Linked DNA regions of Homo sapiens: regions 2, 3 and 4 are each reported to be linked to region 1. Evidence: microRNA targets listed by miRTarBase, many of them from high-throughput screens and not tested one by one. Region 1 holds a microRNA gene; each other region holds the end of a gene's coding sequence.
Evidence for each region. The annotated mature microRNA hsa-miR-5689 reads AGCAUACACCUGUAGUCCUAGA and lies in region 1 at 4,337-4,358, opposite strand. An mRNA with a match to its seed (bases 2 to 7 or 8) in the 3' UTR can be bound and repressed. Matches are read on the target gene's strand: a 7mer-m8 pairs with bases 2 to 8, a 7mer-A1 pairs with bases 2 to 7 and ends in A, and an 8mer does both.

Region 2: the mRNA of ATXN7L1 is a reported target of hsa-miR-5689. Seed matches in the 3' UTR shown: 7mer-m8 at 3,100-3,106.
Region 3: the mRNA of TSPAN3 is a reported target of hsa-miR-5689. Seed matches in the 3' UTR shown: 8mer at 5,304-5,311.
Region 4: the mRNA of ETV5 is a reported target of hsa-miR-5689. Seed matches in the 3' UTR shown: 7mer-A1 at 3,602-3,608.

What each region holds. Positions count from the first base shown.
Region 1 is chr6:10,435,959-10,444,082 of GRCh38, reverse strand. It overlaps MIR5689 (microRNA 5689), which reads right to left and starts at 4,366; the gene lies at 4,289-4,366. All of the region lies in intron 1 of MIR5689HG (MIR5689 host gene), which reads right to left. RefSeq lists enhancers at 2,347-2,847, 2,848-3,348.
Region 2 is chr7:105,601,922-105,610,045 of GRCh38, forward strand. ATXN7L1 (ataxin 7 like 1) reads right to left here. Exons shown (of 12, transcript NM_020725.2): 12 at 2,851-5,969. The coding sequence ends at 5,931. Among named protein-coding and RNA genes, the nearest start is that of EFCAB10, 24 kb to the left of the region's middle.
Region 3 is chr15:77,043,390-77,051,513 of GRCh38, reverse strand. TSPAN3 (tetraspanin 3) reads left to right here. Exons shown (of 7, transcript NM_005724.6): 7 at 4,587-8,124. The coding sequence ends at 4,679. Among named protein-coding and RNA genes, the nearest start is that of TSPAN3, 24 kb to the left of the region's middle. RefSeq lists an enhancer at 7,177-8,124.
Region 4 is chr3:186,042,780-186,050,903 of GRCh38, forward strand. It overlaps ETV5 (ETS variant transcription factor 5), which reads right to left. Exons shown (of 13, transcript NM_004454.3): 13 at 3,535-6,081. The coding sequence ends at 5,860. Among named protein-coding and RNA genes, the nearest start is that of ETV5-AS1, 32 kb to the right of the region's middle.

The DNA of each region.
Region 1 (8,124 bases):
GCTGGGATTACAGGTGTGCACCACCATGCCCGGCTAATTTTTGTATTTTTAGTAGAGACGGGGTCTCATCATGTTGGCCAGCCTGGTATTGAACTTCTGACCTCAGGTGATCCACCCGCCTTGGCCTCCCAAAGCATCTTGTCTTTTTAATGCATTTCTAAGTATGTTGCAGTCAGCAATACACTTCTCCCCATATGTTCCAACATGCATATCTTTTATTAGAGTTCAATGTTGGTTGATTTCTTCTTCTTTTGAGGTAAAATTTAAATACAAAAAATGCACAGTTTATAAGTGTGCCATTCAGCAAGTTGCAAGGAAGGCCATGTATACAAGCAAGGCAAACCCCTGGTGAGATCCAGTACCTTAAGACTGCCCTGAAAGCTCCCCTGCACAGCTGGTCCCCAACCCCATGGCCCAACTCCCAAAGGTAACCCTTTCTCTGGATTCCCCTGCCCCCACCTTAGATTAGTCCATAGATTAGTTTTGCTTGTTCTAGGATGATAAATATATAAACAGTATGTGCTTTCTTGTGTAAGGCTTCTTCCATTCAGTACAACATTTTTGGAATTCATCATGATGTTGTATGTATCAATGGTTCCTCCCCCCACCCCCCCTTTTTTTTTGAGACAGAGTCACCCAGGCTGGAGTGCAGTGGCACAATCTCAGCTCACTGCAACCTCTGCCTCCTGGATTCAAGCTGATTCTCCTGCCTCAGCCTTTCGAGTAGCTGGGATTGGAGGTGCGTGCCACCACACCTGACTATTTTTGTATTTTTAGTAGAGATGGGGTTTCACCATGTTGGCCAGGCTGGTCTCGAACTCTTGACCCCAGGTGATCCACCCACCTCGGCCTCCCAATGTGCTGGGATTACAGGTGTGAGCCACCGCGCCCAGCCGGTTCCTCCCTTTTTTATTGTGTAGTATTTCATTGTCTGAATTTACCACAGTTAGTTTATTCATTCTCCTATTGGTTGTTTTCAGCTTTCAGTTATTTATGAATAAAGCTATGGACATTTTTGAACAAGCCTCTTTGAGGACATATGCTTTTATTTCTCCCGGGTGAGTAACCTAGGTGTGGAATTGCCAGGTCATAATGTAGGTGCAGTCAGCCTTCCCTATCCGTGGGTTCCACATTCATGGACTCAGCAAATATTCATGAATTCAATAAAAAATCAAGGGGTGGGAGGAAAGGATGATCATGTCTGTATGGAATATGTATAGACTTTTTTCTTGTTATTATTTCCTAAACTGTATACAGTATAATTATGCTCACTATCTGAGTGATGGGATCAATTGAACTCCAAACCTCAGCATCATGCAATACACTTATATAACAAACCTGCATATGTACCACCTGAATCTAAAATGAAAGTGGAAATTATTTTTTTAAATACAGTATAACAACTGTTTACATAGTCTTCACCTTGTACTAGGTATTATAAGTAATCTAGAGATGATTTAAAGTATACAGGAGGATGTGTGTGGGTTATATGCAAGTACTACCCTGCTTTATATCAGATTCCTGAGCATCTGTGATTTTGGTACTTGCAGGGAGACCTGGAACCAGTCCCCTGCAGATACTGATGGACAACTGTATATGTTTAGTTTTAAAAGAAATTGTGGGCTGGGCATGGTGGCTCACGTCTGTAATCCTAGCACTTTGGGAAGCCGAGGTGGGCGGATCACTTGAGGTCAGGAGTTTGAAACCAGCCTGGCCAACATGGTGAAACCCTGTCTCTACTAAAAATACCAAAAAATTAGCCGGGAGTAGTGGCAGGCGCCTGTAATCCAAGCTACTCAGGAGGCTGAGGCAGGAGAATTGCTTGAACCTGGGAGGCAGAGATTGCAGCGAGCCAAGATCACGCTACTACACTCCAGCCTGGGGGACAAGAGTGAGACTCTGTCTCACAAAAAAAAAAAAAAAGTAAATTGCAAAATCCTTTTCAAGATGTATTTTTAAATCGATAAAACACTAACTTAGTATACATTTAGATTAAGAAAAACATTACTATATAGGTTGACCAATGTGATATGGTTTGGCTCCGTGTGGCCACACAAATCTCATGCAAATTGTAATTCCTAATGTTGGGGGAGGGACCTGGTGGGAGGTGATTGGCTCATGGGGGAGAATTTCCCCCTTGCTGTCCTCATGATAGTGAGTGAGTTCTCATGAGATCTGGTGGCTTAAAAGTGTGTAGCGCTTCCCCCTTTGCTCTCTCTCCTGTTGCCATGTGAAGATGTGCTTGCTTCCCCTTTGCCCCATGCCGTGACTGCAAGTGTCCTGAGGCCTCCTCAGCTGTGCTTCCTGTACAGTCTACGGAACTGAGTCAATTAAACTTCTCTTCATATATTACCCAGTCTCAGGTATTTTTTTTTTATAGCACTGTGAGAACAGACTAATACATAATGCTAAATGTCTCAACATTCTCTACTCTTTGGGTGAATATTTGCTTACGTAAGCTGTGGAGAGAAGAAAATTAACAAAGCTAGGGAAAGCTCTCTGGGCCACCATCCACTACTAGTGTTGCCTTAATTATTAATCCTACATCATTTTAGAGTTTGTACTTCAATGGCAATGCGTATTCCTCCAGGAATGGAATGCAGTTTCATCAGAACTTTCTCCTGACACGCCTTGTGGCTCTGAGTCACAGACGTTTTTCTTAAAGGGAGTGTCTTTCATCTCAGGGCCTCAAGCTGCCCGTCATTCCCCCATAGTCCAGAGATCCCCCTCCCCTGTGATCACATTCCAGCTTGCACCCTGTCTCCTCACTCCCTTTCCTTCTATTTCCTGCAGCCACTGCTGAACTACCGCATGCCAGCTCTCTGGCTTTCTAGGGTTTGCCATTTCACAAGGCTTAGCCTCAGATTTTATAAGGTTTATTGGTAAATTGCAGAATGAGAGGTTTTATCTTGTGTTACAGGAATTTCAGGCAGAAGCAAGCAGATGGCGTAACAGGCCAGTCCAAGCACAACACAATCCACAGGCCAGGGCTCAAAGCTCATGTTACCTGCCTCTACCAGGCACTGAGCTGACACCCTGGGCACACCTCTCAATCTCCCAGTCTTCCTCTTGCAGGAAAGAAAAGTTAAGCATTCCAGCAAAAGAAACTACCATCAGAGTGAACAAGCAACCTACGAAATGGGAGAAAATTTTTGCAACCTACTCATCTGACAAAGGGCTAATATCCAGAATCTACAATGAACTCAAACAAATTTACAAGAAAAAAATAAACAACCCCATCAAAAAGTGGGCGAAGGATATGAACAGACACTTCTCAAAAGAAGACATTTATGCAGCCAAAAAACACATGAAAAAATGCTCATCATCACTGGCCATCAGAGAAATGCAAATCAAAACCACAATGAGATACCATCTCACACCAGTTAGAATGGTGATCATTAAAAAGTCAGGAAACAACAGGTGCTGGAGAGGATGTGGAGAAATAGGAACACTTTTACACTGTTGGTGGGACCGTAAACTAGTTCAACCATTGTGGAAGTCAGTGTGGCGATTCCTCAGGGATCTAGAACTACAAATACCATTTGACCCAGCCATCCCATTACTGGGTATATACCCAAAGGATTATAAATCATGCTGCTATAAAGACACATGCACACGTAGGTTTATTGCGGCACTATTCACAATAGCAAAGACTTGGAACCAACCCAAATGTCCAACAATGATAGACTGGATTAAGAAAATGTGGCACATATACACCATGGAATACTATGCAGCCATAAAAAATGATGAGTTCATGTCCTTTGTAGGGACATGGATGAAACTGGAAACCATCATCCTCAGCAAACTATCACAAGGACAAAAAACCAAACACCGCATGTTCTCACTCATAGGTGGGAATTGAACAATGAGAACACATGGACACAGGAAGGGGAACATCACACTCCGGGGACTGTTGTGGGGTGGGGGGAGGGGGGAGGGATAGCATTTGGAGATATACCTAATGCTAAATGACGAGTTAATGGGTGCAGCACACCAACATGGCACATGTATACATATGTAACAAACCTGCACATTGCGCACATGTACCCTAAAACTTAAAGTATAATAATAATAAAATAAAAAACAAAATAAATAAATAAATAAACATCTAAAAAAAAGAAAAGTTAAGCATTCCAAAGTGTTCAGCTGATTTGAGCATTTTGTCCAGGACATCTGATTCCAATGTTTGAATGTGTGTGTGTGTGTGTGTGTGTGTGTATGTGTGTATATACATTTAGAGAGGGGGTCTCCCTGTGTTGTCCAGGCTGGCCTTGAACTCCTGAGTTCAAGCGTGGTAGCACACACCTGTAGTCCTAGATACTCACCCTCCTGAGTATCTAGGACTACAGGTGTATGCTACCACGCTGGAATTAAATGTGTATTTTGCATTTGTAAATTTATTGACATAAGTGACAGAGTCCAGGCATATAATAAAACTGGTGACTCTGAAGAACAAATATTTCATTTTCTTCCATTTTCTCTCGGTTCTTGCAAACTTTCCTGAAATCTTGTCTCAGCTGAGAAACATGTTCTCACCATATAGTCATGTGAAGGGTGAAACTCATCTTCCCAGTGGTCATAATGAACACAGCTCATATTGTCCAGGTCTTTTCTTCCACTAGAGGGATTTTAACTGCCCTCCACTTTATTCTCCCAATAAACTTTTAGTTAAAAAGCTTAAATGTGGCCAGGTAATGTGGCTCATGCCTGTAATCCTAGTACTTTGGGAGGCCGAGGAGGGTGGATTACCTGAGGTCAGGAGTTCGAGACCAGCCTGGCCAACACGTCGAAATCCTGACTCTACTAAAAATACAAAAATTAGCCATGCATGGTGGTGCACGCCTTTAATCCCAGCTACTCGGGAGGCTGAGGCAGAAGAATCGCTTGAACCTGGGAGGTGGAGGTTGCAGTGAGCCAAGATCACGCCATTGCACTCCAGCCTGAGAGACAGAACAAGACTCCATCTCAAAAAAAAAAAAAAAAAAAGCTTAAATGTTCTCACCACACACACATAGAAATGGTAACTGTGTGAGGTGATGGATGTGTGAATTTGAATTAGCTTGATTATGGTATCTCACCTCACAAGATAGACATATATCAAAACATTGCATTGTACACATTTTAGTTGTATATATATAGTTGCATATACATATCTATACATATCTTTTAGTTGTATATATTCAAGCTACAGGGGAGGGAAACTTTTAGCCACAAAGCAGATCCAGTTGGAAAATCTTAACATCAAATGCTAGTTTTTGCATGTAATTTTTTTCTTTAAAAAATACATGGCCATAATATAAAATTCAAAAGGCAAAATGGTAAGTTGCAAAGCTTGTCTCTCTTCCTTTCCCCTAGTCATCAGATCTTCCCAAAGACACCTATACATACTGTTACTAGGTACTTGTGTATTTCTAGACATCCCAAACTTTTCTTAACATATACAGATTATATATTCTCCTCATCACATAAATGTTAGCATACTATGAAAGAGACAGCAAGTCGCCTGTCTCAACATCCATTCTCCCACTTTCTTTCTTTGTTGATATGGGGTTTTGCTCTGCCACCCAGGCTGGAGTGCAGTGGCATGAACAAAGGCTCAGCACAGCCTTGACCTCTTGCCTCAGCCTCCTGAGTAGCTGGGACTACAGGCACGCACCATCTGGCTAATTTTTAAATTTTTGTAGAGACAGAGTTTCACCATGTTGCCCAGACTGGTCTCAAACTCCTGGGCCTAAGGGATCCTTTCACCTTGGCCTCTCAAAGTGATGGGATTACAGGAGTGAGCCACTGGCGTCTGATCTCCTCACTCTTTTTATAACAGCCGTCCAAATGTATTTGAAGCCACTCATTGCTGTCCAGCAAAAAACTGCATTTCTCAGCCTTTCTGTTAGCTAATAATGCAGGCTATGTAACTAAGTTTTCGATACTGGAGTGGAAGATACTAGAATGTAACATTTGTCAGATCTTTTGCCTTTCTGCTGGCTGGGATGTGGACGTGATGACTGGAGCTTAAGCAGCTTTCTTGGACTGTAAAACAGCCCACTTGGGATGGCAGAGCAACAAGATGGAGGAAATTAGGTCCTGAGAATGATGGAGTTCCCTTATAAGCCATGGCCCTGTCCATATCTGTTTTGTTGTTGTTGTTTTTTAGCAGTTGAAACAGCTTAAACACCATAACAAGCTCACTGTTACTTGCAGCAAAATACAATTCCTTTTTTAAACATACGTAATTTTTATTTGTCAGTTATACCTTAATGAAAAATGTAATAGTCAAAACAAATGATATATTTGGAAATTTTTAAATATACACTTATAAGTAAAGCCATGGATCAAAAAATAAGTCACACTGAAAACTAGAAAACATTTTGAATTGACAATTGTGAAAATGCCACATGCCAAATATTGTGGCATTTCACAAAATCTACTTTGAGTGAAATGTATAGCGCAAAAGCCTATAAATGCTGACATTTAAGAAGTGGGAAAACATTTTTTTTAATTAGCTAGTCATCCAAATTAGAATTAGAAAACAACAGCAAAATAAATTCAAAGATCAAAAATGAAAAATTAATGTAAGAGCAGAAGTAAATAAATACAACTAAAATTTATAATATAGAGCATTACAAAGACAAGCAGTTCTTTAAAAAGCCTAACACAATTGAAAAACCTGTAAGCAAGAGTGAAAAAGTGAAAAAAGAAAGGACACAAATAAACTATATTAAGAATGTAAGGGGGCTCGGCCCAGTGGCTCATGCCTGTAATCCCAGCATTTTGGGAGGCCAAGGCAGGAAGATCACTGGAGGTCAGGAGCTTGAGGCCAGCCTGGCCAACATGGTGAAAACCCATCTCTACTAAAATTATAAAAAAAATTAGCTGGGCGTGGTGGCATATGCCTACAGTCCTAGCTACTCGGGAAGCTGAGGCAGGAGAATGGCTTGAACCTGGGAGGCGGAGGTTGCAGTGAGCCACGATCAAGCCACTGCACTCCAGCCTGGGCCACAGAGGGAGACTCTGCTTCAAAAAACAACAAAGACAACAACAACAAAACAACAACAACAAAGAATGTAAGAGGGGCCAGGCGGGCTGGCTCACACCTGTAGTTCCAACGCTTTGGGAGGCTGAGGCAGAAGGATCACTTGAGCCCAGGAGTTTGAAACTGGTCTAGGCAACATAGTGAGACACTGTCTCTCCAAAAAAAAAAAAAGTAAGAGGGGACATAAATGTAGAAGCTGTAGACATGAAAGAGATAATAAAATTTTTCTATTTACAGGCAGTTTTATAAAAATGAATTACAAAATATAGATGAGATATGTTCTATTAAACATATAAGGTATGGTATACTACAGTAAAACACAATTCTTAACACATGTGTATACCATACCTAGTGCACTACACCTTGCTTTCTTCCTTAACAATATGTCTTGGAAATGAATCTGTAGAGTACATAGAGAACTGCCTCATTCCTTGTAATGACTGAATGTTATTCCTTTATACGACTGACCCATCATTTATTTAAATGTGTCTTATTGATAGCATTTAGACTGTTTCCAGTCTTTGCTATTATTAAAAAAGTCACGATATATAAACCCATCATTTCGCACACTTGCAACTCCATCTGTAGGATAAATTCCAACAAGTGGAGTCGCTAGGTTCAAAGGTGTGCTCATATTTATTTGGATCGATTTCACAAAGAAGCTATACCATATTACACTACTCCCATCAAAGTATAAGAATGCCTACTGCGGCCGGGCGCGGTGGCTCATGCCTGTAATCCCAGCACTTTGGGAGGCCGAGGCGGGCGGATCACGAGGTCAGGAGATGGAAACCATCCTGGCTAACACAGTGAAACCCTGTCTCTACTAAAAATACAAAAAAATTAGCCGGGCGCGGTGGCGAGTGGGCGACGGAGCGAGATTCCGTCTCAAAAAAAAAAAAAGAATGCCTATGGAGTCTCCTAAGAACAGCATCATCAAGGCCACCACATTCCAATATCTGTTGCACTTCTCTCATAAAGCTGAGCACCTTTTTCTTGCTGCATAGCCTTGTAACCAACTCTATTATAATAGAACTTGTTCCTCATCATCAGCAAGTGAGCATTTGCTAGCTTCAGATCTGAAACTTTCATTT
Region 2 (8,124 bases), not on the chromosome of region 1:
CCAAAACATGTACAGTCCTGGCTTTCAGGGAACCACTTTCTGCTGGGGTCACTCTTTGCTTTGAAGGGCTTCATCTTAGGGTTCCCTGCCAGCTTTCTGGCTCTACCCAATCTCTCTTCTCTTCTCCCTTTACATTCTCTCAGGTAATCACAACAATATTTTTTTTAGTAGAGACGAGGTTTCACCATGTTGGCCAGGCTGATCTTGAACTCCTGACCTCAGGTGATCTGCCCACCTTGGCCTCCCAAAGTGCTGGTATCACAGGTGTGAGCCACCGTACCCGGCCTGCTTCCGATCTTCACTAAACACTCCTGCTGCCAGCCCCTCAAAAAGCCTCTTCCTCCTTTGGTTTTCCATATCTGAAGAAATGACAACTCCACCCAAACTAATTGCTCTACCAGAGACCTGGGAGTCGTTCTTTACCTAAACAAATCTTATCAATTTCATATCTAAAATACATATATCTTGAATCCACTTCTTTTTTTTTTTTTTTTTTGAGATGGGGTCTCTGTTGCCCAGGCCGAAGCACAGTGGTGTGAGCACGGCTCATTGCAACCTTTGTTACAGGGGGCAGCTAATTAGGCACGGGCAGGGCAGGAGAGAGCTCCCTCACCCCCCACACACCAGGAGAGTTGGGTGGCCCTCAGGTCATGTTCGGGCAGTTGTTAACTGTTTCGCTAAAGTAATAATTGGTCACAGCCGGTGCCAGGGAAAGGCAGTCTCCTAATAGAAAACACTTGAAACTATCAGCCGCTTCCCAGTAAGATCTCAGCAGTGGGGAGAAGTAATGCAAGATCCTGGAAGTAGGCCAATGGATAAAACACCCAAGTCAAGAGATCAAGCTGCATGCTTGGTTTCTCAAGTCGCCTGCTTGGTCCACTTCCAATTGCACTTTCCTTCTTTCCTTTCCTTACTGCTCTAAAGCTTTTCTTTTTTTGAGATGGAGTCTTGCTCTGTTGCCCAGGCTGGTGTGCAGTGATATGATCTCAGCTCATTGCAACCTCCGCTTCCCAGGTTCAAGCGATTCTCGTGCCTCAGCCTCCTGACTCCTAGCTGGGATTACAGGCACGTGCAACCATGCCCGGCTAATTTTTTTTTTTTTTTGGAACAGTCTCTCACTCCTTCACCCAGGCTGGAGTGTAGTGGTGCAACCTCCGCCTCCCGAGTTCAAGTGCTTCTCCTGCCCCAGCCTCCCACGTAGCTGGGATTACAAGCGTGTACCACCATGCCCAGCTCATTTTTTGTATTTTTAGTAGAGATGATGTTTTACCATGTTGGCCAGGCTGGTCCCAAGCTCCTAACCTCAGGTGATCCACCTGCCTCGGCCTCCTGAAATGTTGAGATTACAGGTGTGAGTCACTGAGCCCATCCAGCCTCTAGAGCTTTTTAATAAACTTTCACTCCTGCTCTTAAACTTGCCTCGATCTCTTCTTCTGCCTTATGCCCCAGTTGAATTTTTCTGAGGAGGCAAGAACTGAGGTTGCTGCAGATCTGTATAGGTTTGCCACCAGTAACTTGGATACCTTCCACTGGTAACACCTTGACCTACCTCCCAAGCTCAAGCGATCCTCCCGCCTGAGCCCACCAAATAGCTGGGATCACAGCTGCGCACCACCATGCCCGGCTACCTTTTTTTAGGGACAGGGTCTCCCTGTATTGCCCAGGCTGGCACACACTTTTCTTTATAGCTACTGTCATCATCTTTCGATCACACTGATGTTCTTCACTTTGTCTCTTGCAATAGCTTCCCACTGATTCACCACACAGTGGCTAGAGTGCCCTTTTAACAGATCACAGTACCGTGGCCCTCCTTAAAGCCCTTCCAAGGATTCCCACTGAATTGGACACAAAATTCAAACTCCCTAAAGGCCTTCTGTGGCCTCGTCCCTGCCCTCTGTCCATCTCTCTGCCCCTGGTCTGTCCACAATGGACGCTCTTTAGGCTTCAAGAAGTGATCTCTGCCTTCAGATCACTTCTTCAGAGAGAACTTCCTGAGAGCTGCCTCCTCTCCATCGTAAATGTCTCTCCTGTTACTTTCTCTCACAGAATTCAGTTCTTTCCACCATAGCATTTGCCACAATCCGTAATTACACATCTGATCATGTGTGTATTTATTTGCTTTCCTTCTCACTGGGTTGCTTCCAGAAAGCAGCTGGGATCGTGTTTCTCATCCCTGCGCACAGAGCGCCTGGCTCAGGGGCAGGCACAGAGAGGGTGCTCTCTAAGTACTCGCTGAATGAATCCACTGTCTTCTCTTCTCCTCACAGTCGTCTCCTGCCTCAAACGCAGGTCTAGCAGAAAGGCTCTTTTGGTGAGAATACCTTCACCCCCGGCAAAAAAAAAAAAAAAAAAAAAAAAAAAAAAAAAGAAATACCAAAAATTTAAATTTTATGAAAACCCGAAGACTTTGTTTTACAAACATATAAATTATTTTATTTACAAAGCCATGTTACAAAAAAAAAAAAAGCAAAAAAAAAAAAAAAATACAATTGCTTACTGGAGAATATTTCCAGGCCTGGTGAGGAACCATGGCAGTATCAATAGATACATGTTTGTTCTTTCCTTTTAAAACTGTAAGCCATAGAATTTACTATTTACACCTACTTTAGACATTTATTCTGCTTACAATATCACAGGCATGGAATGAACTCTATCTGATAGTGCTAATACATAGAGGTGCGGGACGAAGAAGGAAAATACTTAGTGTTACAAAATATGGATTGTAGAAAAGAAACCCACTCCACAAGTGTGGCATTTGTTTAGAATGATCGGACATGCTTTCTTCAAAATTTTTCTGGAAAAGGTTCTAAAATTGGTAGTAGGAAAGGACAAATGAGCAGGTGCAAATTCTTGTCTGTGCAACAACAGTTATTTAATATACCCCATGACTGACCAGCTACGTAAAACCCACAGAGTTTTGTTAAAGTGCCATGGGCCGACAGCATAACAAAATATAAGGTGTAAATAGAAAATTTCTTTTTTTCCTTTTTTAAAACAAGAGTTCACTGAGAATCAGCAATAATAGAATATGCTGTATAAACTATTCTCTACAAAGGTTGATCAGCATTATTTACAATTGGTACATTGATACAAAAGAAGGCATACAAGTTATCCAAGTCGCTTTTTTTTTTTTTTTTTTTTTTTTATGGCTGACAGGTCTATGCATTGCGTTATGCTTCACAACCAGAGCTTTCGAGCCTCTATGGCTGGCGACAAGTCAGGAGATCTTCAGGCAAAGAGGGGTGTGTGCAGTCAAGGGGCTGGGAGAGAAGACTGAGTGGGTGTGCAGAACAGAAGGACCCAGAGGACATCACCCTAAAAATGTTTTATAGGCTGCTCCAGTTTAACTCCATTAAGACAAACCCAAAGAGAACCTTTTATTTGCATTCCATTTTTCAAGCTGCAAGTTTTTAATACATCATTGTAAAGTAAACCTGTGGTTGACTGCCAAGGAAGAATACTGTGGGCTTTCCCTTTTTGCCCAGTTTTCCAGAAATATCCTCACCTTGGTCATAGCCAGTCTTTTGACAAAGTAAGCAGCATTCGATGAGGGTGGGGGGGGGGGTGGGGGCTCTTTATTCCAGCTTCCAATTCAAGATGTAGAGAGCTACAATGTCTAAACCTATTGAATTGCTCCTTTAGTCCTTGAGACATTATTTCTCAGAAGCAGCCACTTAATCTCTCAACCTTTGTTTTCCCTCTTTGACTATAAGAGTTTATAAATCAGAGGGTTATTTTGTTGTGGAGATTTTGTTTTTTGTTTTTACTCCTGCAAGTTTTACAACTCAAAATAAATTATAAAAAACAACAGACCTCTGAAACCGAACAAGACAAAATTGTGCAAAAATAACAAAGATATGTACATACTTTTCAGTCTGAAGAAATGTACAATAAAAACATAATTCAAAGAACATTTTAAAAATATAAACATTGCTTAAACTTTCCTAAGTTTCATATTGTTTCTGAAACTATTCTGGTCAGTTAGCTCTGTAATATAGTAAAACATAAATTATTACAAAATTAACACTATAAAAATTTACTTTAAGAATATCTTCTAAACTTTTTTTCAAAGGGTCTAACCTTGTTTATAATTTCTTAAACATTTATAAGTCTTAAAATCTCCTTAACCTTTTTTTTTTAAAAAAAGAAAAAGTAACAATCATCCCTTCAATTTGCAGTCTCTTTTCCCAAGACGTAAATAAACCAGCATATAAGTGCACTTTTAACACTGTAGAAATAAAAATGAAATCATCCGAACTAATGTCCTGGTACTTAATATCAACTCCTGATTTTTAAACAAATCATTTTATATTAAAAAATTTAGTAATCCTATAAGAAACACTCACTGTCAGTGCAATTCCATTGATGAAAATCACTCCATTTGCCTCCCGTCTTTGCAATTCCAATTGTGTGGTGAAACTTAACAGTAGTCTGATCTTTGGGTTGGGGGAACGGGAAAGAAAAGGAAAACTTTGGGGTGGGGATGAGGGTTCTGCCCAGCTATGAAACTAGCATTCATTTCTGATTTAAGGATGAAACAAAACCTCCCAGTATCTTTGCTATACATCATATACAAAGTTACATGATTAATAGCACAGAACACCTATTTTATGTTGTGAATTCCTTTCCTGATTATGATTCCCTACTAGAGCTTATGGTATTGCTGTTTCTTTTAAAACTCCAGTGTGAATAGTTCTATGGCTGCAGGGCTCCAGCGTGGCTCTTCCAAATGGCTGTTCTTCACTGAGCAGTGGCTGTCCTTACCATTCCTTCATGGGGATGGCTGTCTCTAAGACAGCAAAAGCTGATCCATGGGTGTGCTGATCCCACCAAGTCCCTGTGGCCCAGGGCATGGGGGTGGGTGGGAAATGCTATTATTTATTCTGACAAAAGGTTTGACACATACCCTTTTGTGGAAGCTCTCCCTGGGGGGCTCTTCCTAGCCCAGGAAGGCAGCCTAAGAACCTTTAGCAGCTGTGGTCACCGTGCCTCCTCATGGAGTGGCTTTCTGGGTTCTCACGACCTTTTTCCTGGGATTTCTCCCTCCTAGCTCACCCTGCTGTGGGCACTGGCACACTGATTCCTGGAAGGGATTCTGCAGATTCCTGACCAGCTCAGACCACCACAGTCTCCAGTTTTTTTAGGGATCATCTCCTACCCACCATGCTCTGCTTGCTGCCACCTTCCCAAACCTGTTCTGGCCCCTGTCCCTGACTGGTTTATCCTTTCTGAGCTGCACAGCTGGACAGTGGTATTAGGTAAACCACATCACTAAACGGCCACTGTTCTCAATCTCGCTTCTAGCATTTGGCTCCAGCCATGGTGGGCTGTGGAAACTGGATGAGGGAACCCCACCCACCCTCCAACTCTCCACTCCCAGCTCCTCCCCAGCAAAGCCCCCTCTCCCTGCACACAATCCTGAGGGGATCCTATGAGAGCCAGGTCCTTTGAAGACCAGTGAGGACCCAGAGAGTGGTAGACGTAGGGATGGAAGGAATCGGGTGGAGATGACAGGAAGAAAAAGGGCTCTGCCTGTGCTACAGTTCAAGAGCTTCAGAGCATGCCAACCTGGAACCAACATTCTGCAATGTCTGCTCTCATGGCTGGAGCAAAAGGATGGTACAGTAGCAGCATCAGGAGCTAGGGGAGTGACCCCAAATTTGGAAGAATGTAAAAACATGGCAAATGAAAGGAAAGACAGCGGAAACCAAACACTGGAACTGTTTTCTGTAAATCTCAAATTCACCTTCTTTTGCCTTTTTAACTAAAAATTGGTCAATTAAAAAAAGAAGAAGAAAGGCCAGAGTCACAGGGAGTGCACAGAAAACAGACTCTCCCCCCAGCCCACTCCCCTCCCTCCTCCTCCCCATGGCCTCCTCGGATGGGATTAGGTGGCCTGGAATTGATGTGGAAGTGGCTTCATAGTCTTGTTATGGAAGAGTCCTTATCCTGCCCGTTCTGTTTGTGTTCTTCTAGGAAAGAAAAGAAAAACTTGTTTCAAAACCATACAGTTGAGATTACCCATGAGAATTCAAGGATGGAGACTTAGTTTTCTCATCTATAATAGAAAGGACAATATCCCACCTCCCATATCCAGCAAAGGGCAGCTGGAATAGCAAGAGATGATGGATCTAAAGGACCCAATAGCAAATGAGGTGACGGATCCATGCATGTAAGGCAGTCACAGAGGTCCTCACTGTGGAGGAAAACACAAGGACGAATGCCGCGGACATTCCTGGGAGTCCTCTTTGGGAGAGTGGACAGAATAATTGATGCCTTCATTTTTGTTCTCCATTAGTTCACCTTTTCCTACCTAACCTATAGATGACACTGCAAATTATCTCAGGAAGGATTCTAGTGTTGGGTTAAACACAGAGGCTCTGGAGAGAGAGATTTTGGGTTCAAGTTACTTGGCTTCTTAGTGTAGCCATCTTCATCTGTAATCATCTTGTCCCTCACAGGGTTGTGAAAAGGTTTAAATGTGTGTAGCGTGTGTAAAGGACACAGCACGTAGCCCTCTCTCTGCAGGCAGAGAGTGCTACACAAGTGGTGGCCATTTGTGTTTGTCAGGGCTGATTGCTGGCATTTTGGGTTCCCAGCAGGTGTACCCGGAGCTATGGGCACATGCAGGCTGTGTTTGGTGAGGGTGAAGTGTAGTCTGTAGGTACACATGACAACCTCTACAAGAGGCCCCATCAACAGAGGCTGACGGCCTGAGTATAAATGTGCCTTCCCACCCCAGCACACATGAAGGGCTGCAAGTGTTCTGGCACAAAAAGGACTCAAAATGGTGAGGAGACTCTCCCTGGCCTGGGGATACAAAAACCATTTCCCCATAATCTTTACCCAAACTCTACCCAAGATTTGTGGGAAAATCCCAAAGGGCAAAATACACACACGTTGCTATTTTGTTATTTGGTGTCTACAAAACATGCGGTACATCTCAGGCAACATAACAACACGGTTATATATACACGCACACCCACACATTTTCCAATCATGTGTAAGGGGCAAAACCCCACCCCCCAATCCTTCCTGGTCCTCCCTAGACACATATGCACACACTCCATTGAGAAAATCATTTATCACAGGTGTACACACCGACTACTCTTATACATCAAGTTTATAAAAACTACTAAGTCTACCCTGAATACTGCTGCCATGAAACTGCATCCTGAATGGTGGCTGCAGCTCATCAGAGGCTTTTGAGAGAGTGCTGATGGACAGACACCATGGGCAAGGCCTCCCCCTCCTCTTTTTTTTTTTGAGACAAAGTCTCACTCTATTGCCCAGGCTGGAGTGCAATGGTGCGATCTTGGCTCACTGCAACCTCCATCTCCCGGGTTCAAGTGATTCTCCTGCCTCAGCCTCCTGAGTAGCTGGGATTACAGGTGCGCACCACCATGCCCAGCTAATTTTGCATTTTTAGTAGAGACGGGGTTTCACCATGTGGGCAAGGCTAGTCTCAAACTCCTGACCTCGTGATCTGCCTGCCTTGGCCTCCCAAAGTGCTGGGATTACAGGCATAAGCCACCATGCCTGGCCTAAAAAAAATTTTTTTTGAGATAGGATCTCGCTCTGTTGCCCAGGCTGGAGTGCAAGGTGCAATCACAGCTCACTGCAGCCTCAACCTCCCAGACTTCAGTGATTCTCCTGCCTCAGCTGCCTGAATAGCTGGGACTACAGGCATCTGCTGCCATGCCTGGCTATTTAAAATTTTTGTAGAGATAGGGTCTCACCATGTTCCTTAGGCTGGTCTCAAACTACTGGGCTCAAACCATCCTCCTGCCTCGGCCTCCCAAAGTGCTGGGATTATAGGTGAGGCATCATGCCTGGCTGGCAAGTCCCTTTTTTACAATTTTTTTCTTGAGACACAGTCTCACTCTGTCACCCAGGCTGGAGTGCAGTGGTGCAATCTCAGCTCACTGCAACCTCCACCTCCCTGGTTCAAGCAATTCTCCTGCCTCAGCCTCCCGAGTAGCTGGGACTACAGGAACGCACCACCACGCCCGGTTACTTTTTGTATTTTTTAGTGGAGATGGTGTTTCACTATATTGGCCAGGCTGGTCTCGAACTCCTGACCTTGTGATCTACCTGCCTCAGCCTCCCAAAGTGTTGGGACTA
Region 3 (8,124 bases), not on the chromosome of region 1:
TTTTGTTGCCCAGGCTAGAGTGCAATGGTGTGATCTCAGCTCACTGCAACCTCTGCCTCCCAGGTTCCAGTGATTCTTCTGCCTCAGCTTCCCAAGTAGCTGGGATTACAGGTTCCCGCTACCATGCCCAGCTAATTTTTGTATTTTTAGTAGAGACAGGTTTTTACCATGTTGGCCAGGTTGGTCTTGAACTCCTGACCTCAGGTGATCCACCTGCCTCGGCCTCCCAAAGTACTGGGATTATAGACGTGAGCCATCGCGCCCAGCCTCAGCTTATGCTTTCTTAAGCCTGAAACCTATTTCAAGAGCTAAAAGAGCCAGGTGTGATGGGTTACACCTGTAATCCCAGCACTTTGGGAGACCGAGGAGTAGGATCCCATGATGTTAGGAGTTTGAGACCAGCCTGGGCAATAAGACTCCATTTCTACCAAAAAAAAAATTTTTTTTAAAAAAGAAAAATGTAGATAACTTTTATTTGTTAAATAAAACCAATGTAATTGCTAGTTTAAATGTAAGTTGCTTGGATTGCTTGCTCTTTGTATATTTGAACAGAAGCTAGTGTATTTAATGGGAAAGGCCTTTTAAAATGGCAAAAGGATGATTGTTTACTTTGCTGATATTCAGACAGCCCTGAAATGATTCATTAAAAAGCCTACCTCTTTATTTGCCATGGTCTTTGCCCTTCTAAGCATTTACTCTGTAGCTCTGCATAGCAGTAATCTGATGATCAGCAGGGATTTATTTCATATTTTGATTATTTATGCAAACACATTCATTTAGCTAAAAATAATGAAATATGAGGAAGGTCTCTTTTCCCAAATAGAATTCTGAACTGTGCATTCTTAATGATTTTATGTTCAGTAATAAAGCCACATGTACTAGCATGCAGCAAAAAAGTTTTGGAACTGTATGGTACTTGTGGTCATGAAATATGCAACATGTATATAGAAGACTGATAAAAATAATCACTTTAGCTATGTCCCTCATCTAGTTAAGCGGCTTAGCCTGCCAGACATTTCTTTATTAAATATTTTTCAATAGGGGCTAATAAATATTTTAACTAGTCTCTTAATTTAAATATGACTGCCATATGTGTTTTATACTTAAGTCACCCTGACTTAAGTAAAAGCTGATAAAGCTTGATTTTTTCACTTCAGCAAGGCTGCTTAAGTTTAGGGATTCAGAGCTTTCACAGACTCAAAACCTAGTGGTTTTGAAAATTTTAAAAACTTGGGTTTTAAGGGGAGAAAATTTATCTGAATTAATAATTTTCCCTAATTGTTTTTAAGAGTACCTGTAAACATTCTAAGCTTCTGGTATTCAAAATCTGATAGATTGGTGCCCTGGGTGTGGAAAACCTGAACAAAGGCAGAAATAACTGAAAGATCAGTGAGCTTTTGTGCTTATACACTGATCCTAATATAGACATTTAGAGCTGGAGAGGATGGTTGGAGAGTCTCCAGTCTTGGCCCTCTTTGTTTAGCCACAAAATTTTGGGTGAGCAAGGATAGTGTGGCATGACCATCACACAGAGTGTCAACTCTAGAGACCCCTGCCTTTGTTTGTACTCTGCCTCCAATTACAAGTATAAGATTTGCAGAAGATTAAATTCCTAAATTTTGTCAGGAAACCTGACAGTTAATTGACACTTTAGCTGGATAAAATACAGAGGTAAGATGGCAGAGTTGAGTAGTTACAATATTGATTGATTTTTGTCTTGGTTTGGAAAGCCTAAAATATTTATGATATGGCCCTTTAAGAAAATGTTTGGTGACTCTTGCTCTAGTCCATTAAATAATCTAGATTTGGGTAGGACCAAAGTGACCAAGAAAGAAAAACCTGAAAAATACCAATTAATTATAATAACAGGACTTTTGAATATAAAAGAATGAGGTTTTAAAAATTTTGATGTACCCCTTATTAATTAGCAGGATATTTCACTTCTTTGAGAGTAGCCACTCTCTTAACTCATGATCAATTATGAATTTTATATTTAAAGAATCTGGTCATAATAATTGACAAAAATCTAGATTTTGATTTGTCAAGCTCCTGAGTATCTGCTGTGAGTAAGGCTGTCTCTCTACAAAGGCAATACGGGGAAAATGTTCTAAGTCTTTACTTTGGGGTCTCATGAAGTTGGCATATCCTCAAGATAGAACGATCAAGAGCAGATTTCATAAAGAACTGTTTCCCAAGGCCATGTTGCTTTTTTTCTGGTCTCTGTGCCGCATGTGAAGCCGGTGGAGACTGCTCTTTCCTCCTCCTCCTCAATTACCAGTTATTCGTTAAAATGAGAAACTTCCTCCTCCTTCCCCTCACACCCTGGCCAACATTGCAAAATGTTATATAAATGAATTCATATAGTTTGCAACCTTTTGTACCTTCTTAAAAACAAATTAGTGTATTTTGGATATAGATCTGCCTTTTTAATTTCATGTCTGCATAGTATTCCATTTTATAGGCATACTTTAATCAATATTGATGGGCTGTTTATAGCAAAAATTTGTAACTATGAAATTACAGTATCAGAATGTATGAATGAATTTTGATAGGTATTTCCAATTTTTTCTCAGAAAAGAGTGTTTCTAATGTGCAAAAGTTCTTATTTTTGTATAAGAATGCCTATTTCCCCATACCACCAGCAACATGGTATATCATAGAACATTTTACTTTGCCAGTCAGTTTTTTTAATCACCACTAGTCATTTTTTTCAATTTTTGCAGTTGCTGGGTGTTATATTTGGGCTAAGTGAAGTTTAATTCTCATGCCTTGAATATTGCAAGAGAGTATTTCATTGCAAGAAATAATGTTGGAGATAAAATATTTGTGTAATGTTTCCAAGTATGTTGTTGGAATGTTTCAAAAATCAATGGAATTTCAGTATAGCAGGCCTTTGGAAATGAGCCTGTAATAGTTAATGGTGAGGATAAGAAATTATTATGTAGAGCTTAATATTCTTAAGCAGACTGATTCCCAAGCATGAGTAGAATTTTATCAAGTTTATTTGTTTTAAAATCAATACAAGTTGATTTCATTGAAATAAACAAATTGGGAAAGAAATACTTATTTCAGACCTCATTTTGAGAATGCTGGCTTCTCTAATAGAAGTTAACCAATTGAAAGGAGTGTGGGGAGGTGGGGGTGGGAAGAGAGATTTTTTTTCCCTTAGCAAACCAGTCATTTCTGAGCTTAGCATTTTTATTGCTCAATTTAACATTGCCTGAGAACATAATTGCATTTGAGTTTATAGCTGTTCTAACAATGTTTTGATGTACAGAGAACAGAAATGTATTTCTCTAGGAATTAGGTACTTCATCGGTCTAGAATTGACTTAAATTGTTTAGTAAACTTTAAATAATATTCACCTCTTAAGTGTGTTTAAGGTGCTTTGCAAATGGTGAAATGGTGCAAATGGTGCAAGTGGTGAAATAGTGAAACTGATGGATTTGAGCAGGAAATATATATCCCGAATGGGCAGAATATAGGTTAATGTGAGGGTAGAAATTGGAGTGGGTGACTTTATACCATGGAGAATTCAGATTGAGGACATCCTTATGTGTATGTGTGTCTTAGTAGTGGTTAATCTTCCACTTCAAACTTTGAGAGTCTGTTTATGGATTGGGTACATTTTGCGGAAATTAGATTGACCCCCAAATGTACAGAGGACCCTGTCTTTTAAAATCAAATAACTGAGGCTTTTCCTCATCAATGAGAAGTTAGAACAGCAAATTATCTCACAAAAAAATTATATTTTGGGAGAAGGTAGGTCAAAAATTCTAGAATCATTTTCTCTTTAATCCAGCTTAATCCTTTTGCTTATCCAAAATAACATGGCATGACTTTATTACTATTCCAATATGCTACCACAGAAGGTTTAGGACTTATTGAAATAAAATGATGACGGAAGAGTGACCTTTCAAAAGTAATATGTATGTAATACCACAGAACCGTGGATTTCAAAAATAGTGAATGTGAAGGAAACAAAAAACCTTCCAACTACATTTTTTTTGGCATCAGAATTTGTTTTCTACCATAGGGCTATTCACATACTGAATTTCGTTTTCCAAAAACCAAAAGACCTGAAAAGACCACTATTAAACACACACATTCTTGCTCATTCTACTCCCCAGGCCTTTGCTGTCCAGAATGGTAGCCACTAGCCACATGTGTCTACATTTAAATTAATTTAAATAAAATTAAAAGTGCAACTCAGTTGCAGTAACTATATTTCAGGTGCTCAGTAGTCACATGAGGCCACATGACAGTGCATATGTGGTATGTCTCCATCGCTGCAGAAAGTTCTTTCGGACAGCACTCGCTAGACTAGTAGTGGGGATGCCAAATAAGAGAGACTTGATTCCCTGCTGGCTTTACGAAGAGTTCCTGGGAGGGAAGCTGAAGCTTAGGACTTAGTTCCTTAAAAAATAATGTACTCATAAGAAATTCCTTCTATCACTGTTGTTACTGCCTTTTTGATGATTTGAAGTCATTGAACTTTGAAACAGCTCTTTTACCAACAAAGAAATACACACCTGCCATGAGAGGGTTTTCAGCCTTTTTTCCCCATTGTTGTTTTCTTTCAACAGCTGCTGGGCATGCTGTGTGCTTGCATCGTGTTGTGCAGAAGGAGTAGAGATCCTGCTTACGAGCTCCTCATCACTGGCGGAACCTATGCATAGTTGACAACTCAAGCCTGAGCTTTTTGGTCTTGTTCTGATTTGGAAGGTGAATTGAGCAGGTCTGCTGCTGTTGGCCTCTGGAGTTCATTTAGTTAAAGCACATGTACACTGGTGTTGGACAGAGCAGCTTGGCTTTTCATGTGCCCACCTACTTACCTACTACCTGCGACTTTCTTTTTCCTTGTTCTAGCTGACTCTTCATGCCCCTAAGATTTTAAGTACGATGGTGAACGTTCTAATTTCAGAACCAATTGCGAGTCATGTAGTGTGGTAGAATTAAAGGAGGACACGAGCCTGCTTCTGTTACCTCCAAGTGGTAACAGGACTGATGCCGAAATGTCACCAGGTCCTTTCAGTCTTCACAGTGGAGAACTCTTGGCCAAAGGTTTTTGCGGGGAGGAGGAGGAAACCAGCTTTCTGGTTAAGGTTAACACCAGATGGTGCCCCTCATTGGTGTCCTTTTAAAAAATATTTACTGTAGTCCAATAAGATAGCAGCTGTACAAAATGACTAAAATAGATTGTAGGATCATATGGCGTATATCTTGGTTCATCTTCAAAATCAGAGACTGAGCTTTGAAACTAGTGGTTTTTAATCAAAGTTGGCTTTATAGGAGGAGTATAATGTATGCACTACTGTTTTAAAAGAATTAGTGTGAGTGTGTTTTTGTATGAATGAGCCCATTCATGGTAAGTCTTAAGCTTGTTGGAAATAATGTACCCATGTAGACTAGCAAAATAGTATGTAGATGTGATCTCAGTTGTAAATAGAAAAATCTAATTCAATAAACTCTGTATCAGCCCCCAACATATTATTTTTCATTATTTGGGGGATATTTCAGTTCCAGAGCAGCAGTATCATGTTTTCTTTGTTGGTGCTGTCTATAGTTCATCATGGTTTACGTGTGTTTTCGTTATAGCTGTTGCCAGATTCTAAAGGGCTTGATATTCAAAAAACCACAGATGCTTTCAGTCCAGTATATCCTAGAAATATAGAGCTCTACTTTGTGCAATGCACTGGGGATACAGTGGCGATACTGTCCTTGTCTTCAAGGAGTTCGGAGTCCTAGTATAGGAGACATACATAGGAGAAGATAATTTTCACACTGCAGTGGTTGTAGTAATAGAATGGGAGTCCAAAGGGGAGTTCCGGAGAGGTCAGGGGTGACTTCCTGGAGGAGATGCCCAAGCTTGGAGGCTGGATAGGCTTTGTTGAAAGATGGTACACAAGAGTGTGAAACAAAATTGTGTGTGCAGGGAGCTTAAAATACAAGGCTGGGGAAAGAAGTTGGAGAAGCAGGAAAGCCCAGGCCCTCTAGTGTCTTACGGAACATCCTGTGGAGGTGAGAGCTGACTTGTAGGTGGAAGCAGCTCTTTGGAGGTTTGATTTGGAAGGTGAACTGAGAAGAAGGTGGTGATGCAAGCCGGCCGTGCTGAAGCCAGGATGAATTGGTGTGACTGGGCTTCAGTTAGGCTGGCATAGCAGTTGAGAGAGCTTAGCAGTGGGCAGCAGGGCACTGTTGGGGGCGGTGGTGAGCGGTGGATTCTGGCTGTTTGGAGGCAGGACAGTGGTGGAATTCGATCATTGATTGGACGTGGGACAGAGAAGGGAGAAGAGAAGACTCATCTAGGATGAGTCCCAGGTTTCTGGCTCAGTCAACTGGGGAAACAAAGTCACAGAGCTAGGGAGTAGTTAGAGAACACATCTGGGGGTGTGACTCATGGTCAGTTTTGGGCTCGTCAGTTTTGAGATGCCCAAATATCATGCAGATCTGTCCCACCTGAAAATGGAGAAGACACGGGAAAGGAGAGGAGTAAAAACTAACTCCTTTTCACAAAGTGGAAGTTACCAGAATGTGATTTCAGAGGCCCCGGGGGATTTATCATGTGACTACTGACCCATCCCACCTCTTGCCCCTGCCTGTTGCACAGTGGGCAAGAATGTTTGTGACCTTTCACTACCACCACCTCCCCCGAGCATGGTCCCCCCAGTTTTCAATATGAACCATCCTGTGGGTACCCTGTCACAGGCTGGCCCTGAGGTGAGCAATATTTGGACTGTGATGTTGGTTGTTCTCCACTCTTTCTACAGGACAGAACAGGGCCTCTAGAGTGGGAAATGGCTTTGGGAAATATGCCAAGCAGTAGCCTTGTTCTTCAACTTGCCCAAGAGGATAATTCTCCACACCCTTCCTGTACTCAGTCCTCAGTTTGCCTGGTGAGAGAGCAGCCTCCTCCCGTGTGCTCTGCCAGCTGGACCCAGACTGGCCATATTACCAGTGAGACCAAAAAGATGGAGGTGGGGAGGTAGCTCTGAGGTCTGGGAAACCATTCCAGCTCCTGCCAGTTTTAACTTGTGTTTAATTCCTGGCACAGTTGTCCTGGAAATGCCTTTTTCTCTTGCCTGGGAACCACTAGAAGGGGATGTTGTCTGTGTTGGCCAGGGCCATGCAAATTCAACATCTTGTTTCTGCCCTTCCCCCGTGTAGCTGAGGCTAGGTGTTGGCATTACCCAGTGCTTGTTCTTCAGAGAGCAAAAGCACTGCTCGTCATGTCTGAAATTTAGTGAGTGAGCTCACCCACTAGGCTGGTGTTTCCTGCCCGTGGCTGCACATTGGAAGCACCGGGGCACTTTGAGAACTACAGATGCCTGGGTCCCAGAGCATCTAAGGTGCTCTAGGGTGTGTCCAGGACACAGCCCTGGTTGAGGACCACTGCTATATTGTATGGCCTCTTTTAAAAAAGTTAATTTTACTTGGAAATGATTTCAAAGCTACAGAAAAGTTGCAAGAATAAAAACTGTACAAATGAGGCTCAAATATCCTTTGCCCAGATACACCTATTAACATTTCGTCCCATTCTATCTGTCATGTGTGTTCTCAAATGTGTGTGCGTTCTCTCTCCCTTGCGCCAACCCCCTGTCTCTCCCTCTCCCTCCCTCCTGCTGCCTCCACACCTGTCATGGCCTTTTACCCCTAATACCTCAGTGGGTACTTACCAAGAAGAAGATACTCTCTGACGACTGCAGTACAGTTGTCAAATTCCGTCCATCTAACACTGATAGAATACCTCACCACTCATATTCCCATTGGCCGCATCGTGTCCTCTATAGCACCTTTCCCTCTGCGGTGCTGGATCTGGTCTGGATCAGGTAATCAGTTGAGTTGTCATGTCTCCTTGGTCTTCTTTAATCTGGATCATTTCCATAGCTTTGTCTGTGATGATAGGAACAGTTTGTAAGGATACAGTTCGTTTTAGGTGGTGCTGCTTATCTGTGTTTGTCTGCGATTTCCTCGTGATTAGATTTGGTTTTGCATTCCAGGTGGCTGAACCACTACCTGCGTCACGCGGCCTCTCAGGGCATCGCATCTCGAGGCACACAATGCCCATCTGCCCCACAGTGGGGATGTTCGTTTTGATCATCTAGTCCAAGGAGGAGGAAATGT
Region 4 (8,124 bases), not on the chromosome of region 1:
TCTATCTTACAAATATATTCATATATGCTTTCCTTATGCCCTGGCTCATGCCACCATCTCACCCCGCCTGGACTACCGCAGCCTCCTACAACTTGATCTTCTTCCTTCCTTCCCTGTTCCCTACAGTCTATATTCAACTTAGCAGTCAGAGTGATCTTTCAAAATACACATCAGATGATGTCACTTCTTAGCTCAAAAAACTCTAACAGCTAAACATAAACAGAGTAAACGCCAGAGTCCTTAAAAAGCCTACACGGCCCCAGATGATACAACCCGTTACTTTAACAATGTTCCATCTGACTCCTGGATCCAGTTTCACAGTCCTTGTTGTTCCATAAATATTCCAAGCATGTTCAAAGCTTCAGGGTCTTACACTTGCTCTTCCCCCTGCAGGGAAGGCTTTTCCTTCCGATATCCATCTGGCAGCTACTTTTTTGGGTCTTTGCTCAACTGAGACCTTCCCTGACCTCCCTACTTAAAATTGCAACCCTCCACTCCCACTACTCACCATTTCCCTTCCCTGATCCCATAGTACTTAACACCTAACAAATTCTATCATTTGTTTTTTTCCTCCCTTGCCCAGATGTAAGATCCTTGAGAGCAGAGATTTATTTCCCTCCACGAATCCTACAGCAGTACCTGGCATAGACTAGGCACTATTTATTGGATGAGTAATACTCAGTATATTATACCTTGCATTCTAGTTTCACCTGGAGAAATGTTTCCCCCACTAGATTGTTGGGTGCTGAAGGAGAGGGTGGGCTTGTGACTCCCTTATCTTCACCTGCAAAGTGTCTATTATAGTGTCTTACACATCATCGATGATTGGTACATGATAACTCAATGATGAAAGCACAGACTCACCCTTGTTTCACTCTAGGAAACAGGTCATCCAGGAGAGTCCGGCTAATTGTTAAAGGTAGGTGTCACAGACATCACTGATGCCAGCTCCATGTGCCCTCAACCCCCTAAGCTAACTGCATCTGAAAACAGTTCCTAGCACACTGATTATCTGCATCTACACTCTTCTCTTCCTGATAGGATATATATTGAAGAGTTAACATCTCTGGGGATAACCTTCAACCAATAAGGGCAGGAGTTGGAGGATAAATGCCCCAGCCTCCCCAGCTTCTGGTCAACATAGTCTGGATAAGATGGTGTCAGTGGTGTTTAAGTATTACCTGGAAAGTATAGCACTTAAACATGTAAGAGGTTGTCACACAATTACTATACCACAAACAGGGCTTTAGCTTGAAAATGCCACCTAAATCATTTATGTTTAGCATCCAGCAGTGCCTGGCACCTAGCAGGTGCTCAGTGGATGATTGAAAAAGAAGAAATGTGCCATTAATGGTGGAACTGAGCCATCTTCAGAGCTTGCTTAAAAATGGTGACTTGAGAATGATGTTCTTAACTGTTAACTCTCCTACACACGCACACACATTCCTTGACTCCCCTAGGAAACTCCTTTCTTTCTCCCTTACTGCCTATGAGATCGGGGAGTAGTACTTCATCAGTGCCCTCAATGAACCTAGGAGGTTAGGCCAGATGGTCCCCTGAGACCATTTAGTTAAACCCAATCAACCACTGACCTGGGGCCAGAACCCAAATGTCTAGGCTCCAAGGGACTAGTCCTCTTTCCACAGTAGCCACTGTGAAAATTCCAAAAAAGAAATTAATTTTGGAGGCTAACAGCCATGGTATTTTCAGACTCAATTTCAACAGTATTACCATTTCAGAAAGCCTGCCAAAAAGATAATGGAGATGAAAAAGTGCTGTGTAAAGTGCTACCCAAAGGTTACCTGAGGTTCACTGCCAAGGTCAACAAACCCAGGCTTGGGTGTAGAGCCAGCTCTTAAAGTTGGAGGAGCTAAGGCTGGTCATTCAAAGGGCCCCTTCTGAATGGGACACCAGTGTACTTGCCGGGATCAAAAGGACATAGCCGCTCGCCTGGTACCACCCTCACACCCTCCCCCTATTTTAAGTACAATACACTTATGTTGAATAGAATACTTACACTATGTATTTGTACTAAACAATACTTACACTATGCATTTGTATTAAACTGATGATCTTCTGGACTTTTTTCCTTTCTCTTGTATTTCAGAGGCCACACATTGAGTAGCAGCCACCTGCACCGCTGGGCAATGAACGGTCTCTCCAAAGTTTCCAACCGTCTGGGTACATTAGTGTTTTTCTTCCACATTAGTTTACATTTGTCCCAGCTGCATTAGAATTTAGATTCTGCACATACTCTGGCTCTCAAAACCACATTCTTCTGCGCTCACACTACCTCTTTGTCATCTAACAACTGAATACGCATTGTTTCCCTGGCTTGGCTCATGAAAGGGGACCCTGATGCAGAGTAAACTTCCCATTCTCTGAGCTTCCTTATCCTAGCGCCCAACACTAGAAGGGCGGCAGTGTTTGGTGACCTCCTGCGTTAGGTTAACGATCTGGGTCCGGGCCCAGGCTGGATAACGAGCCCGTGAATAATGGGGAGCGGATTGTTAAAGCCTTATCATGGTGAAGCTGAGAGGCAGAGACGGCTTTTTCCTGCGCACCCTTGCCCCTTCTCCCCAAGCATCTTTTCTTAATCTGTCGAAGCTAATGGGGTTTATGTGGCAGACATTCATTCCTCACAAGCTCCAATTCAAGAGGCGGTGCACTCATTCAGTCTCGATGTTTCTACACTTAGAGGCTTGTAAAACAGTAAAGAAAGATAGCAGATAAACTGACAGAAAGCCTTCTGTTCTAGGCTTGAAAAAAGGCTCTACTTTATTTCTCCACTGTAATAGGAGTCTTGAGAAGGCCAAATTAGAGGTGCAGAAAAAGGGTGAAATAAGAGCACTAGAAACCGTAATAACCGTAATAACACCGCAATACAACCCGGCGAACTTTATTTCCTTCCACGTATTTCCCGAGTGATACATATTCACGAGAAAGAGACAAACTTGGAGGAGGAGGTTTTTACTGCTGCACGGCCAGAAAAAAACATAGTGGGCAAAACCTTCCTGAGCTTTTTTCGTTATTTATCAACCATTAATTGATTTTTCACTTGTCAAGAGCAAAACTTATTGGGGAAAAATTAGAAAATGAATGGTCTTAAGTTCTTACTGGTTTTCAAAGTATCCACATAAGGGGCTGAGGATAATTCTGGGACTCGAAAGTCCTAGACTGCTTTGTAATCTTTTCACACAACCCAAAGCGAAACATGGGCTACACTTAAAAAAAGAGTTACTAAGAATTGGTGGCTTGGTGGGCTCAAGGGGATGAGGTGATCTCAGCTCACCATTGGCTGGGAAGAGGATCTCTCGACTTTCCACCTCTTTGGATTAAATTTTTAGCTGGAGTTTAAGAGGAGCTGTGCACATCTATTTCCAGGTAACAGAGTTCCCTAACTACCCTCGATGCCACTGTCCATTGGTAAGGCTAAATTGTTGAGAGGGCTAGGGCGGGGGCGGAGAGAAAGCCAGGGGGCTTTTGCCTGCTTTAAAATTAGACCAATGAGGGCAAGAAAGAGGCAGGTTCGGGTGCTTGGTAAACGAAAAGCAAACTTCTTTATTGTACACAGTACAGAATATAACGCAGCTTGGCAGGATGCATACGGCCCTGCGCAGGGGAAAGTATTTCAAATCAGCTGGCAGGTTCAAGCCTTTCTGCACTGTAGACTTTCCACACTCTGGAAAAGAAGCAAACAAACAAACCCCAAAGAACCCCCGAAAAAAACAAAAACCATCCGGGAGGTGCATGAGTCCAATGGGAATGCAACCGTGATGCCGCTGTCCTATGCCCAGTGACAGCACAGGTCACGTAAGTTACAGCAGGGGAGGGGTAGCTCAAGCTACAGAGGATTATTGTCATATTGCTAAGACAGCATAAATCCATTCAAAAGAAAAAAAAAAAAAATCCAAACCAGGGTAAGTAAAGAAAGGAAAACCAAATCTATACAGCATTTACAACAAATAAATCTCTAGCCAGCTGGGGGTAAAATATGCATCTATGTATAGACTATGTGTAGGTTAAGAAAGCTATAAATATGGTTTAGAAAGAGTCCTTTGATTAGAGTACAATGCTAATTAAGGCCCAATCTACAGGTTTACCACCTTTGTGGGCTAATTAGCTTCCAATAGAGGAGAATCTCATGTTTCCATAGCTATAAAGTGCACCCCTTATCCCTGCGAACCTCTTCACAAATGTGCTGTTGGTCATAAGGGGGACAGTTTGAGACTATGGAGTGCTCCATGAATAGAAAAGCAGTTCAAAGCACGTGTCTCACACTCACGGAGTCAGCACTGCCTCCTTCACATACGAGGAACAGTGTAGTCATTCTTAATGTACTAAGTGTCACGGGGAGCACAGAATTCTACCAGCAGAGCAGGCAGCAAGGTACCACCAGTAACTTTTCCTCTACTTTGAGCTCAACTTTCACATAGCTTTAGCTTGGTTGTTTAAAACTTTTCCAATATAATACAGCAATGAGAATAATTTCTTTTTAAAAAAAGGCAGGAATCTAGAATGCTAGCACTGTTGCTTACCTGTCAGTATCACACGTAAGTCTCAAACCCTACTGAATCACACAGGTAGGGTTTAAAGTCCAAGATTTAAAGAAAAAGGAAAACAAAACAAACTGATGAAATGGAAATTGTCATCAGTCATGCCCAGGGAAGAATCCCAAGGGTTTTCACCAGGTGACCAGGTTTCCAAAGGACATGACACATGTTATATACATATGCTTTCCAGAGAGGGCATGTTAGTGAACACGGGGAACTATACATAGAGAATCTAAGCTTGTGTCCAGGCTGCCCTGCACACTTCAAAAATGTACAACTCAGGTGCAAATGTTCCATCAGGTTGTCTGGTGCAGAAAGCACAAAGCAGGCAACAAGGCGGGCTTTCACATGGCCAAGGGGAAGCCTCAGCAAAGCCCCTCTCAAGCTGCAGTGTCTTCATAAGTTGGCACGGCCCTGGCTAAAGGACACAGTGCACAGTTACCAAAAGGTTTGTTTTTGTTTTTTGTTTTTCGTTTTTTTGCTTTAAATACCAAAACTACAAAAATCAGTTTATAAACTGTTTTTCCAAAACAACCACCAAAACAAAACAATCCCCCAAATCAGGGCAAAACAAAATACTGTCAAAAGTGTTAATCGCCCTTCTCCTAAAATAAAAGTCATCCACACTCAGCCACGTGATTGGGAAGAGAAAGGGGGCTTGCTCTACTTGGCGACCACATGGCCGGGTGGTTCCCAAGAGTAGCCATGGTTTATGATTTTGAGAACCACGGAGTGGGGAACAGCTGTTCTGACTGCCCCCCTTTTTCTAGACAAGGGGTAATATTTCAGATTCAGCTAGAAGAGCTTTCCAATGTTTAAGATGTATTTTTAACCCTTAATGGTTTGAGCCTCCCCAACTTAGCCTACTTACTTTTCTATGGGTTTGTGATTTTTCAACAAATTGTGCAAATCAGAGCCCTTCTATGTAAAGGCATTTAGTAGTCCATGATCGATGCAGATTGTCACATACTATGTCCCGTTTTGCGGGTACTAACCTGAACAAGATATTGCTTTGCATGTATTGTCCATGGTAAGGAGACTCCATTTTGATCTCTTCCCAGAAACCTCATCAGAATCAAGAGTTGAGGCACTGGCCTTTTGGTGGTTTTCTGCCCCTCCCTGTTCCCACTCCCCAGCCAATGTATCTGTCTTTAAGGGTGCCAATCCAGAGACAGCTTGGGTTCTCCAGATAATACTCAAAGGGCAAGCTTTAGGAACAACCAAAAACACAAACAAAACCACTGCCCTTGTTTGCCTGAATGGGAACTGCTAGCTCTAGGGTTTGGCCACTCCGCCACTCAGAAACTTAGTAAGCAAAGCCTTCGGCATAGGGGAGGCTGCTGCAGCGGTCCATGTCCAGGAGGTAAGCGGGGCTGTCTTCAAAGTGGGTCAGCGGCAGGGTGTCCTCCTCGCTGAGGTGGCACTCGGACTCTGCCTTCAGGAACGGACGCTGGTTATCCGGGAAAGCCATGGAGAAGAGGGCATCTGGGTCACAGACAAATTTGTAGACGTATCGCTCTCCAGCCACCTGCGGGAGAACACACACCTTACAGGGCCCAGTTGGAACAGGGCATGGGATCAGGGGAAGAGAACGAGGTATTCCTAAGTCACAAAGCCAGGGACCAAAGGAGCAGCCGATTACCCCAATCACTCAGACTTATTTTGAGAACTCCTGGGAACCTATTATCTGCCAAGTGTTTTACTGACACTACAGCAGTTAAAAAAGAAGATATCTGAATTTCGAATTCACACTAGATGGACTCTTAAAAGAAAATCTTCACTTTCTGTCTTCCAGTGACAGCTTTGAAAGCATGGTTATGCTGAGCCTGGAGTCTGGTGTTCCAAAAAGGTTTAAGGACTGACAGGTGCAAGGCAGAAGCCTGACCACATTTTTAGTCACTTCCAGAGTTTACAGTCTTCACAGTATGGCCTTGTTATTTAGAAAGGTTAGAAATCTGATGAGAGCGAGCCTGCGCAGAAGCCTTAAGTATGTTCCAAAGCTGAAAAGAATTGCTTTTGGCTTACCTGCAGCTTTAAATGACTCACCGCATGGCTCTGCTACACTGAGGGAACCGCTAACTACCTTTCTATGGGTTTTCTGCATTATAATATTAGAACCAGAAGGTCTTGGTTGTTCAAGGACCTCATGGTATGTGGCTGATGAGACATCTGCGTCAATGGGATCACCTTCTCTCTGCTGGTTGTTCAGCAATAGTACAAGAGGCACCTAATACCGAAAATCAAACCCAATAATCGGCTTCTGTCTGGAGACGCAGAGGGGGAAGGGAAGGCAGCCAAATTTACTGATAAGATAAACATTTTAGATTTAAAAATGCAAACTGTTGAGTTTAATCCTGCCCTTCAGTCATTCTGCTGTGATTCTAAAATCTTTTTTTAATTGAACAAGTATGGCTCTGCTTCCACATCTCTACCAATCAACCACCTCTAGTTAGTGTTGTACGCTGGTTTTACCTTAAAGCCCAACCCCAAAAATTAGTTTGTGTGGGAGAGTGAGGCAGGAGAGCACAGTGGAAATAATCCTAGATCAGAAGCTGGGAGTTGCACGGCTTCCAGTCCTGGTTTAGTCACTAATGAGTCTTAACCTCTGTGAACCTCAATTTTCCCTTCAAAAATGGAGGGCATGGGACTACAGCTTTTCTAAGTCTCTCTACACACCGACGGGCTATCATTCACCTTTTAATGAGCTCTCATGTACTCGTGAGTCATGTAACAAATAAAATAATAACCCCTTCCTTACACTGGATGGCACATTATTATTTCTGAAATATTTTCAAATATATTACCCTGTGGGATTAAAGCAAGAATTATTATCTATATTTTTATTAGAAATAGAGGCTTTGGGAGATTAGGTGACTTTCCTCAAATCATACAGCTAACAAATTGAAGTGTTAGGATCTGAGCCCACGAAGCCTCATTCCTGGGCCTTCCTGTACTCTTTGCCTACTTATTCTCAGAAATAAAGTTCTCTTCTACTCCCTTAGAAAACACAGAAGCTAGTCATAAGGACAGCTCATTTCCATTGGTTCAAGTTACTGTGTCCTGGGTTGCATCTCCCCATGCTGGATGTGGAGTTGGGAACAGCAAAGGAATAATGGCTCTCCCACCTGAACTTAGGATTTGGCCTGATGATATCAACTCTAAGGAGGATAGAGGACAATGGGGAGTGGCTGCTGATGGGTATGGCGTTTCTTTTTGGGGTGATAAAATGTTCTGAAATTAATTGTGGTAATGGTTGTACAGCTCTGTGAAACCACTGGACCGTATACTTTAAAAAAAGGAGAGGTAAGGTAGGGGACCACCTATCCTACAGCATTTAACTCTGTATCAAGCACTGAAGTTAAACCTCAATTCCTAACCCAAAGGAGCTTACACTCCAGTGGGGGGTAGTAACAAGAAAGGAGTTAAGACACAGCGAGAAGAGCAGTGGTAGGAACAAGTACTGGTGCCATCAGAAGCAGCAAAGGGGACCACCTAACCCAATCTGAAATGGAAAGGTGACAGAAAACAAGGAGGGGCTGGCCAGGTACTGAGAGCATTAGGAATGTTCTAG